Linked DNA regions of Homo sapiens. The protein of the gene in region 3 interacts with the protein of the main gene of each other region in a pairwise test. Each region holds a gene or a part of one and is shown on either strand. Other genes may lie near its edges. The genes, in order: NBPF19, PISD and DAGLB.

Region 1 (3,653 bases), on a different chromosome or scaffold from region 3:
TGGCACGAGAACTACGTGATGCATGCACAAGCTTCAGTAGCCAATTCGATCAAGTGCAAGAAACGGTATCAGTGATTCAAGATCAAATTAGTGAAATGAAGCGAGAAGAGAAGTTTAGAGAAAAAAGAGTAAAAAGAAATGAACAAGCCTCCAATAAATATGGGACTATGTGGAAAGACCAAATCTACGTTTGATTGGTGTACTGAAAGTGACGGGGAGAATGGAACCAAGCTGGGAAACATTCTTCAGGATATTATCCAGGAGGACTTCCCCAACCTAGCAAGGAAGGCCAACATTCAAATTCAGGAAACACAGAGAACACCATAAAGATACTCCTCGAGAAGAGCAACCCCAAAACACGTAATTGTCAGATTCACCAAGGTTGAAATGAAGGAAAAAATGCTAAGGGCAGCCAGAGAGAAAGGTTGGATTACCCACAAAGGGAAACCCATCAGACTAGCAGCAGATCTCTTGGCACAAACCCTACAAGCCAGAAGAGAGTGGGAGCAATATTCAACATTCTTTTTTTTTTCCATATGTATAGTTTTCCTTTATTATTTTTTGTGTGTATGTATATATATATATATTTTTTTTAATACTTTAAGTCTTAGGGTACATGTGCACAACGTGCAGGTTAGTTACATATGTATACATGTCCACATTGGCGTGCTTCACCCATTAACTCATCATTTAGCATTAGGTATATCTCCTAATGCTACCCCTCCTCCCTCCCCCCACCCTACAACAGGCCCCAGTGTGTGATGTTCCCCTTTCTGTGTCCATGTGTTCTCATTGTTCAATTCCCACCTGTGAGTAAGAACATGCGGTATTTGGTTTTTTGTCCTTGCAATAGTTTGCTGAGAATGATGGTTTCCAGCTTCATCCATGCCCCTACAAAGGACATGAACTCATCATTTTTTATAGCTGCATAGTATTCCATGGTGTATATGTGCCACATTTTCTTAATCCAGTCTATCATTGCTGGATATTTGGCTTGGTTCCAAGTCTTTGCTATTGTGAATAGTGCCGCAATAAACATATGTGTGCATGTGTCTTTACAGCAGCATGATTTATAATCCTTTGGGTATACACCCAGTAATGGGATGGCTGGGTCAAATGGTATTTCTAGTTCTAGATCCCTGAGGAATTGCCACACTGCCTTCCACAATCGTTGAACTAGTTTACAGTCCCACCAACAGTGTAAAAGTGTTCCTATTTCTCCACATCCTCTCCAGCACCTTCAACATTCTTAAAGAAAAGAATTTTCAACCAAGAATTTCATATCCAGCCAAACAAAGCTTCATAAGTGAAGGAGAAATAAATCCTTTACAGAGAAGCAAATGCTGAGAGATTTTGTCACCACCAGGCCTGCCTTACAAGAGCTCCTAAAGGAAGCACTAAACATGGAAAGGAACAACCGGTACCAGCCACTGCAAAAACATGCCAAACTGTAAAGACCATTGACGCTAGGAAGAAACTGCATCAACTAACGGAAGAAATAACCAGCTAACATCATAACGACAGGATCAAATTCACACATAACAATATTAACCTTAAATGTAAATGGGCTAAATGCCCCAGTTAAAAAACACAGAATGGCAAATTGGATAAAGAGTCAAGACCCATCAGTGTGCTGTACTCAGGAAACCCATCTCACATGCAGAGACACACATAGGCTCAAAATAAAGGGATGGAGGAAGATCTACCAAGCAAATGGAAAACAAAAAAAGGCAGGTGTTGCAATCCTAGTCTCTGATAAAACAGACTTTAAACCAACAAAGATCAAAAGAGACAAAGAAGGCCACTACATAATGGTAAAGGGATCAATTCAACAAGAAGAGTTAACTATCCTAAATATATATGCACCCTATACAGGAGCACCCAGATTCATAAAGCAAGTCCTGAGAGACCTACAAAGAGATTTAGACTCCACACAATCATCATGGGAGACTTTAACACCCCACTGTCAATATTAGACAGATCAATGAGACAGAAGCTTAACAAGGATATCCAGGACTTGAACTCAGCTCTCCACCAAGCCGACCTAAAAGACATCTACAGAACTCTCCACCCCAAATCAACAGAATATACATTCTTCTCAGCACCACATCACACTTATTCCAAAATTGACCACATAGTTGGAGGTAAAGCACTCGTCAGCAAATGTAAAAGAATGGAAATCACAACAAACTGTCAGACCACAGTGCAATCAAATTAGAACTCAGGATTAAGAAACTCACTCAAAACCACACAACTACATGGAAACTGAACAACCTGCTCCTGAATGACTACTGGGAAAATAACAAAATGAAGGCAGAAATAAAGATGTTCTTTGAAACCAATGAGAACAAAGACACAACATACCAGAATCTCTGGGACACATTTAAAGCAATGTGTAGAGGGAAAATTATAGCACTAAATGCCCACAAGAGAAAGCAGAAAAGATCTAAAATGGACACCCTAACATCACAATTAAAATAACTAGAGAAGCAAAGCAAACAAATTCAAAAGCTAGCAGAAGACAAGAAGTAACTAAGATCAGAGCAGAACTCAAGGAGATAGAGACACAAAAAACCCTTCAAAAAATCAATGAATCCAGGGCTGGTTTTTTGAAAAGATCAACAAGAAAACCCTGTTTGGCTAGTTCACCTGGCTCATCTGATGGCAAGTTCCTATCTTGAGAGGACTATGAAATTAAAACCAATACAAGTGCCACAAATAACATACAACATTGTAAATCAGCACAATTTGTAGCTGGGTGAATGGAAGAAATAGTTCTATTCATCACTTCCTCATTTTCCCTAAATCTACAATCTCCAGATGTCACTACTGAATTAACAGCCAACAATTCCACAACATTACCTGGGAGACACTGGCCCTTTTTCTTCCTCTTCCTCATCATCACTTTCATTTTCTGTAAATAAATTCAGAGAAGCAGGTCACATTAAGCAATTCATACTTCACATATGAACAAATCACTGTCCAGTCATAGCACAAGGACATAACTATTCTCAGTGCAAGAATAAGGATTCTGACAGGAATATTCTAGGGTGTCCTAGATTAACTTTGGTGAGAATTAGATGACCCTGCTTTCCAGACCCACAGGCCAAAATCTCCCTCTACGTGTAGACCATAATGCCATATTCCCTGCCTGAGTCAAAGTTAAACAAAATTTTTTCCCCAAAAAAATCTCCAAAAATTGGTCAAACAATTTTCTAAGAGTGTTGCTGCGATACGGACTTATATCACCAGGTAACATGGACATTAAATGTTTAGAGGCATCTATACATGAAACACGACTGATAGATAAATTTTAACAACTCTTGCTTTAAAAAGAATCTGTGATTTGGGAGGCCAAGACAGGTGAATCATTTGAGGTCATGAGTTCAGGACTACCCTGGCCAATATGGGGAAACCCTGTCTCTACTAAAAATACAAAAATTAGCCAGATGTGATGTTGTGCACCTGTGGTCCCAGCAACTCAGGAGGCTGAGGCAGGAGAATCACTTGAATCTGGGAGGCAGAGGTTGCACCAAGCCAAGATGGTGCCACTGCACTCCAGCCTGGGTGACAGAGCAAGACTCCATTGCAAAAAAAAAAAAAAAAAAAAAAAAATCCACGATGCTACAAAGAAACATTGGATCAGCCATTGC
Region 2 (3,653 bases), on a different chromosome or scaffold from region 3:
CCAGGACTCGTTTTTGTTTTGTTTTGTTTTGTTTTTGAGATGCAGTCTCGCTCCGTCACCCAGGCTGGAGTTCAGTGGCGTGATCTCAACTCACTGCAACCTCCGCCTCCTGGGTTCAAGCAGTTCTTCTGCCTCAGCCTCCCAAGTAGCTGGGATTACAGGCACAAGCCACCACACCCAGCTAATTTTTGTGTTTTTTTAGTAGAGACAGGGTTTCGCCATGTTGGCCAGGCTGGGCTCGAACTCCTGACCTCAAGTGATCCACCCACCTTGGCCTCCGAAAGTGTTGGGATTACAGGCATGAGCCACTGCACCCAGCCCAGGACTCATTTTTAAGTCCTTTCTTTCTCATCATCCACATTCAATCCACTGGCAAGGCAATGAAAACTACCACTGGCCAGGCTCAGTGGCTCACGCCTGTAATCTCAGCACTTTGAGAGGCTGAGGCAGGTGGATCACCTGAGGTCGGGAGTTTGAGACCAGCCTCGCCAATATGGTAAAACCCCGTCTCCACTAAAAATACAAAAAACTAGCCAGCCAATATGGTGAAACCCCGTCTCTACTAAAAATACAAAAAATTAGACGGGTGTGATGGTGGTGGCCTATAATCCCAGCTACTTGGGAGACTGAGGCAGGAGAATTGCTTGAACCCAGGAGGTGGAGGTTGCAATGAGCCAAGATCACACCACTGCACTCCAGCCTGGGCATGACAGAGCGAGACTCTGTCTGAAAAAAACAAAAAAATAAAGGCCGGGCATGGTGGCTGACGCCTATGAGAACTCCCAGCACGTTGGAAGGCCAAGGTGGGCAGATCACGAGGTCAGGAGTTCGAGACCGGCCTGACCAACATGGTGAAACTCCATCTCTACTAAAAATACAAAAATTAGCCAGGTGTGGTGGTCGGTGCCTATAGTCCCAGCTACTCAGGACGCTGAGGCAGAAGAATTGCTTGAATCTGGGAGACGGAGGTTGCAGGGAGCCGAGATCGCACACTGCACTCCAGCCTGGGTGACAGAGCAAGACTGCGTCTCAAAAATAAATAAATAAATAAATAAATAAATAAATAAACAAAACAGAAAGACAAGATCCCACATCTTGTCAGCCTCTCAGATCTCTAGCTACTTTCCCTCTCTTCCTCCTCACTCACTCCTCTTGCCGCTCCTTGTCCACACCACATGTGCCCCTTTCCACACTCCTCCATTTGCTGTTTGCTATGCTGGGCACACCCCTCTCCTATGTGGCTCACTCCCACATCATTTAGTTCTCTGCTCAAATGTTACCTCCTCAGTGCAGTTTTTCCTGAGCACTGTATGCCCAAGAGTTGGCCCTCTTGAACACTAACTTCTTAATTTTTAAAAAAAATTTTTCTGGGTATGTAGTAGGCATATATATCTATGTGTTACATGAGCTAGTTTGATACAGGCACGCAATATGGAATAATCACATTAGGTAAATGGGATATCTATCCCCTCAAGCATTTAAGCTTTGTGTTACAAACAATCCAGTTATACTCTTTTAGTGTTTTGTTTTGTTTTTTTGAGATGGAGTTTTGCTCTGTCGCCCAGGCTGGAGTGCAGTGGCATGATCTCAGCTCACCGCAACCTCCGCCTCCTGGGTTCAAGCAATTCTCTGCCTCAGCCTCCCGAGTAGCTGGGATTACAGGCACCCACCACCATGCCTGGCTAATTTTTTGTATTTTTAGTAGAGATGGGGTTTCACCTTCTTGGCCAGACTGATCTTGAACTCCTGACCTCGTGATCCACCCGCCTCAGCCTCCCAAAGTGCTGGGATTACAGGCGTGAGCCACCGCACCCAGCCTTTTAGTTATTTTTAAATGTAATAATTTTAAATTATTTTTGACAATAGTCACCCTGTTGTGCTAGCAAACACTAGGTCTTATTCATTTTATTTTATATATTTTTTTGAGATGGCATCTTGCTCTGTTGCCCAGGCTGGAGTGCAATGGCGCAATCTCAGCTCACTGCAACCTCTGACTCCCAGGTTCAAGGAATTCTCCTACCTCAGCCTCCTGAGTAGCTGGGATTACAGGAGCACACCACCACACCCGGCTAATTTTTTTTTGTAGTTTTAGTAGTGACAGGGTTTGTTGGCCACGCTGGTGTTGAACTCCTGACCTCAGGTGATCCACCCGCCTGGGCCTCCAAAGTGCTGGGATTACAGGCGTGAGCCACTGCACCCAGCCCATTTTATTTTTTTGATACCCATTAACCATCCCCATTTCTTCCCATCCCCCCACTACCCTTTCCAGCTTCTGGTAACCATCCTTCTACTATCTCCATGAGTTCAACCGTTTTAATTTACAGCTCCCACAAATAAGTGAGAACATGCAAAGTTTGTCTTTCTGTTGAGCACTAACTTCTTAATTATCTTGCTTTCTTTTTCTTCATGGCATTTCTTATTACACAAAATGAATGGATTCTGCATGTATTCAGTTATTTGTTTACTGTATGTATACCTCGATGAACACGGGGTTTATCTGTGTTCTCACTGGCCTTCAATCTCAATAGTGACAGTATGCCCCAGAAAGATGAATGGATGGGTTCAAACAGATGTCTCTTCTACATGCATTCTACATCGCATCCTTCAAGTAGGCAATTAAAGCCCACAATTGAGCACTCCAGTCTGCCTGTGCAACTCAAATCTCAGCGCTGCCACTTCTTAGCAGCTGTGTGACCTTAGGAAATTTCTTAACTAATCTTAAGCCTCAGTTTCTCCACCTGCAAAAACAAAACTCACCTCATTAGAAGACAATCATGCAAAACCTTAGCTCAGGGCCTGGCACCTAGTTAGACTGTTATTATTAAGAGTTGATATTCAGCTGACATACACTGAGATGGTCATATCAATCATCTATGACCAGCATTCACTCTCACTAGTCTGTCTCCATGGCATCCTGGTTATAAGTTTGTTTGTTTGTTTGTTTGTTTTTTGAGACAGGGTCTCACTCTGTCACCCAGGCTGGAATGCAGTGGTGAAATCACAGCTCACTGCAGCCTCGACCTCCTGGGCACAAGTGAACCTCCCACCTTAGCTTCCCAAGTAGCTGGGACCACAGATGTGCACCCAGCCATTTTTTGCGGAGAGGAGGTCTCACTATGTTGCTCAGGTTGGTCTCGAACTCTTGGGCTCAAGCAATTCTCCTGCCTCAGCCTCCCAAAGTGTTGAGATTACAGACATAAGCCACCACACCTGGCCAGTTGCACTATTTTTTCTTTTTCTTTTTTTTTTTTTTTTGAGACAGGGTCTCACTCTGTTGCCCAGGCTGGAGTGCAGTGGCATGATCTTGGCTCACTGCAGCCTCAACCTCCTGGGCTCAGGCAATCCTCCTACCTCAGCCTCCCAGGTGGCTGGGACTACATGTATGCACCACTATGACCAGCTAATTTTTGTGTTTTTTGTACAGATGGGTTTTTGCCATGTTGCCCAGGCTGGTCTTGAACTCCTGAGCTCATGCAATCCACCCGCCTTAGCCTCCCAAAATGCTGGGATTACAGGCATGAGACACCACGCCCAGGCCTAAGACATTTTTAACATCACCCCTAGTAGTAACATTTTGCCTATAGTCCTTATGTCTCCCTTGCTTTCTAAAGCTGTGAAAGTTCTCCTAAAACAGAACGGACAGACCTCTTGAA
Region 3 (3,653 bases):
CAAAGCAAAACTGTCTCTAAAAAGAAATTTATTAATTTAAAACATTTTTAAAAATTATCTGGGTCTGGCAGTGCATGCCTGTAGTCCCAGCTACTTGGGAGGCTGAGGTGAGAGAACCCCGTCTCTTAAAAGACAAACAAAAAAAAGATATTAGTAAAATCTCATGATCTTTAAAATAAATACATAGGCGTGGTGGCTTACACCTGTAATCCCAGGACTTTGGGAGACCGAGGCAGGTGAATCACTTGAGCCCAGGAGGTTGAGGGTATGGTGTTACAGTAAGCCGTGATGATACCACTATACTCTAGCCTGGGCAACAGTCCCAAAAAAAGAAAAAGCAAAATCCAGAGGTTAGGAAGTGCTCAGAACATGATGGGGTCATATGAAAAGAACACTGGAGCCAGTCTGCAGGACAAAATCTGGAACATTTTGAGCATCAAATAAACACTGTACTTAATACAAAATAAACAGTCATAATTACAACCCACTGAATAATTTAAGAATCTATAAATCCATATTGACAGTAAGATGTAGGGATAAAAAGCTCTTTTTTATAGGAGAATGACAATTAATGTAGAAGAAATGATGAATTTAGAAAAATCACAATTTTGGCCAGGTGCGGTGGCTCATGCCTGTAATCCAACCACTTTGGGAGGCCAAGGCGAGTGGATCACCTGAGGTCAGGAGTTCGACCAGCCTGGCCAACACAGCGAAAACCTGTCTCTATTAAAATTACAAAAAACTAGCCGAGTATGGTGGTGCAGGCCTGTAATCCCAGCTACTCGGGAGGCTGAGGCAGGAGAATCACTTGAACCTGGGAGATGGAGGTTGCAGTGAGCCAGGATCCTGAGACTCTGTCTCAAAAAAAAAAAAAAAAAAAAGAAAGAAAGAAAGAAAAAGAAAAATCATGATTTTGCCACCATCCTGGTAATAAGTGATTCAGACAAGAATCAATGGATGCTGTACTGCCAGATGAGAATTCAGAGAGGGATAGGACATTTACTTACTTGTTTTTTGTTTTGTTTTGGTTTCTTTTTTTTTTTTCTTTTTGAGACAGAATCTTGCTCTGTTGCTTAGGCTGCAGGGCAATGGTGTGATCTCCACTCACTGCAACCTCCAACTCCCTGGTTCAAGCGATTCTCCTGCCTCAACCTCCCGAGTAGCTGTGATTACAGGTGTGTGCAACCATGTCCAGCTAATTTCTGTATTTTTAGTAGAGACGGGGTGTCACCGTGTTGGTCAGGATGGTCTTGAACTCCTGACCTCAGGTGATCAGCCCGCCTTGGCCTCCCAAAGTGCTGGGATTATAGGCATGAGCCACTGCACCTGGTGGGATATAGACATATATATTTATTTAATTTATTTTTTAAGACAGCGTCTTGCTCTGTCACTCAGGCTGGAGTACAGTGGTGCAACCCCAGCTCACTGCAACCTCAGCCTCCTGGGCTCAAGTGTTTCTCCTGCCTCAGCCTCCCAAGCACCTGGGACTACAGGTACACACTGTTACACCCAGCTAATTTTTATATTTTTAGTGAGATGGAGTTTTGCCAGGTTGCCCAGGCTGGTCTCAAACTCCTGAGCTCAAGTGATCCGCTGGCCTCGACCTCCCAAAATGCTGGGATTACAGGTCTGAGCCACCACGCCCGGCCTGGGACAAGATATTTAAATGGTCTCAAGGCTGGCAGTCACCACCTCAGCCAAGCAATCAATGTTAATATAACCAGAAATGGGACAAACTGGCATCATGTATCCCCTGATATGATACACTAGGAAGGATGGTTGTCATGGACCATTCCCGCCAAAAATGCAAAACATAAATCTAATCATGGGGAAACCATCACACAAATGCAAATTGAAGGCCCTTCTACAAAATATCTGCACTGTCCTCTTCAAAATGTCAATATCATGAAAGGAAAGAACGGCTGAGAAACTTAAAACTTGAAGGAGACCAAAGAGACACAGCAACTAGATGTAACGCATCATCCTGGATTGGAGAAAAAAATTGCTAAAAAGGGTATTACTGGGGCTGGGCACAGTGGCTCACACCTTGTAATCCCAGAACTCTGGGAGGCTGAGGCAGGCAGATCACTTGAGGTCAGGAGTTTGAGACCAGCCCGGTCAACATGGGGAAATCCTGTCTCTACTAAACATACAAAAATTACCTGAGACCGGGCCTGGTGGCTGACGCCTGTAATCTCAGTACTTTGGGAGGGTGAGGCAGGTGAACCACAAGGTCAGGAGTTCCAGACCAGCCTGGCCAACATAGTGAAACCCCGTCTCTACTAAAAATAGAAAATTAGCCGGGTGTGGCCGGGCGTGGTGGCTCATGTTTGTAATCCCAGCACTTTGGGAGGCCGAGGCAGACGGATCACGAGGTCAGGAGATCGAGACCATCCTGGCTAACACGGTGAAACCCCATCTCTACTAAAAATACAAAAAATTAGCCAGCAGTGGTGGCGGGCGCCTGTAGTCCCAGTTACTCGGGAGGCTGAGGCAGGAGAATGGCGTGAACCAGGGAGGCGGAGCTTGCAGTGAGCCGAGATTGTGCCACTGCACTCCAGCCTGGGCAACAGAGTGAAACTCCATCTCAAAAAATGAAAATTAGCCGGGCATGGTGGCGGGCACCTGTAATTCCAACTACTCAGGAGGCTGAGCCAGTAGCACCGCTTGAGCCTGGGAGACGGAGGTTGTGGTGAGCTGAGATCACGCCACTGCACTCCAGCCTGGGCAGCAAGGGTGAAACTCTGTCTCAAAAAGAGAAAAATAAAATGGTTCGGGGAAAAAAAATACATGTGCATATATATATATATATATATATATATATATATGCAGGGGGGAGGGAGGGAGGGAGAGAGAGAGAGAGAGAGATACAGCGCATGTGACCAGATGAGTCACAGCTGGTGACTCTAGGTAAAGGATTCATGGGAGTTCTTTGCACTGTTCTTTCAAATTTTTGAAATATCTCAAAATAGCTTTTTTTTTTAAGGGAAATATGGCTATGGAGGCTCAGACTGTGCCAACCCACCAGTCACCACCAATCCTGCACAGCCCCGTGAGGGGGTTTCTGTAGATGTAGAGGGGCCACCCATAGGCCGCTGCTGCAAACTGCATGTAATGATGGCAGTTTTCTAATTCTGCATCCAGATCAGCTTCCTACAAGAGAAGGACAAAAACTACTGTTTATTAAGGGAACTCCTGACACAGAGGATCAACACACTGAGACCTGAAACCTGAACTCATTCCTGACTCTTCCTGCTCCTTCGTTGAATAGAACTCTCAGACGCCCACAGGCAAAACTGCTCCTTCAATAAGGATGACATGGACTCCTCATTTTTTTTTTTTTTTAGAGTCTCGCTCTGTCACCAGGCTGGAGTGCAGTGGCACAATGTCAGCTCACTGCTACCTCCGCCTCCCAGGTTCAAGCAATTCCCCTGCCTCAGCCTCTCAAGTCGTTGAGACTACAGGCACCCGCCACCACACCCGGCTAATTTTTGTATTTTTAGTAGAGACGGGGTTTCACCATGTTGGCCAGGCTGGTCTCGAACTCCCGACCTCAGGTGATCAACCTGCCTTGGCCTCCCAAAGTGCTGGGAAGCCAGGCGTGAGCCACCACGCCCAGCCTGACTCCTCATTTTATAGGAACACAGCAAGCA

Evidence for each region.
Region 1: the proteins of DAGLB (region 3) and NBPF19 interact in a two-hybrid assay, tested with the Homo sapiens proteins (one large-scale study listed by BioGRID).
Region 2: the proteins of DAGLB (region 3) and PISD interact in a two-hybrid assay, tested with the Homo sapiens proteins (one large-scale study listed by BioGRID and IntAct).

What each region holds. Positions count from the first base shown.
Region 1 is NC_000001.11:149,481,436-149,485,088, reverse strand, and holds part of NBPF19 (NBPF family member NBPF19), read right to left. Parts: intron 2,915-3,653; coding exon 2,863-2,914; intron 1-2,862.
Region 2 is NC_000022.11:31,655,617-31,659,269, forward strand, and holds part of PISD (phosphatidylserine decarboxylase proenzyme, mitochondrial), read right to left. Parts: intron 1-3,653. UniProt on the Homo sapiens protein: Catalyzes the formation of phosphatidylethanolamine (PtdEtn) from phosphatidylserine (PtdSer). Plays a central role in phospholipid metabolism and in the interorganelle trafficking of phosphatidylserine.
Region 3 is NC_000007.14:6,427,455-6,431,107, forward strand, and holds part of DAGLB (diacylglycerol lipase-beta), read right to left. Parts: intron 3,154-3,653; coding exon 3,026-3,153; intron 1-3,025.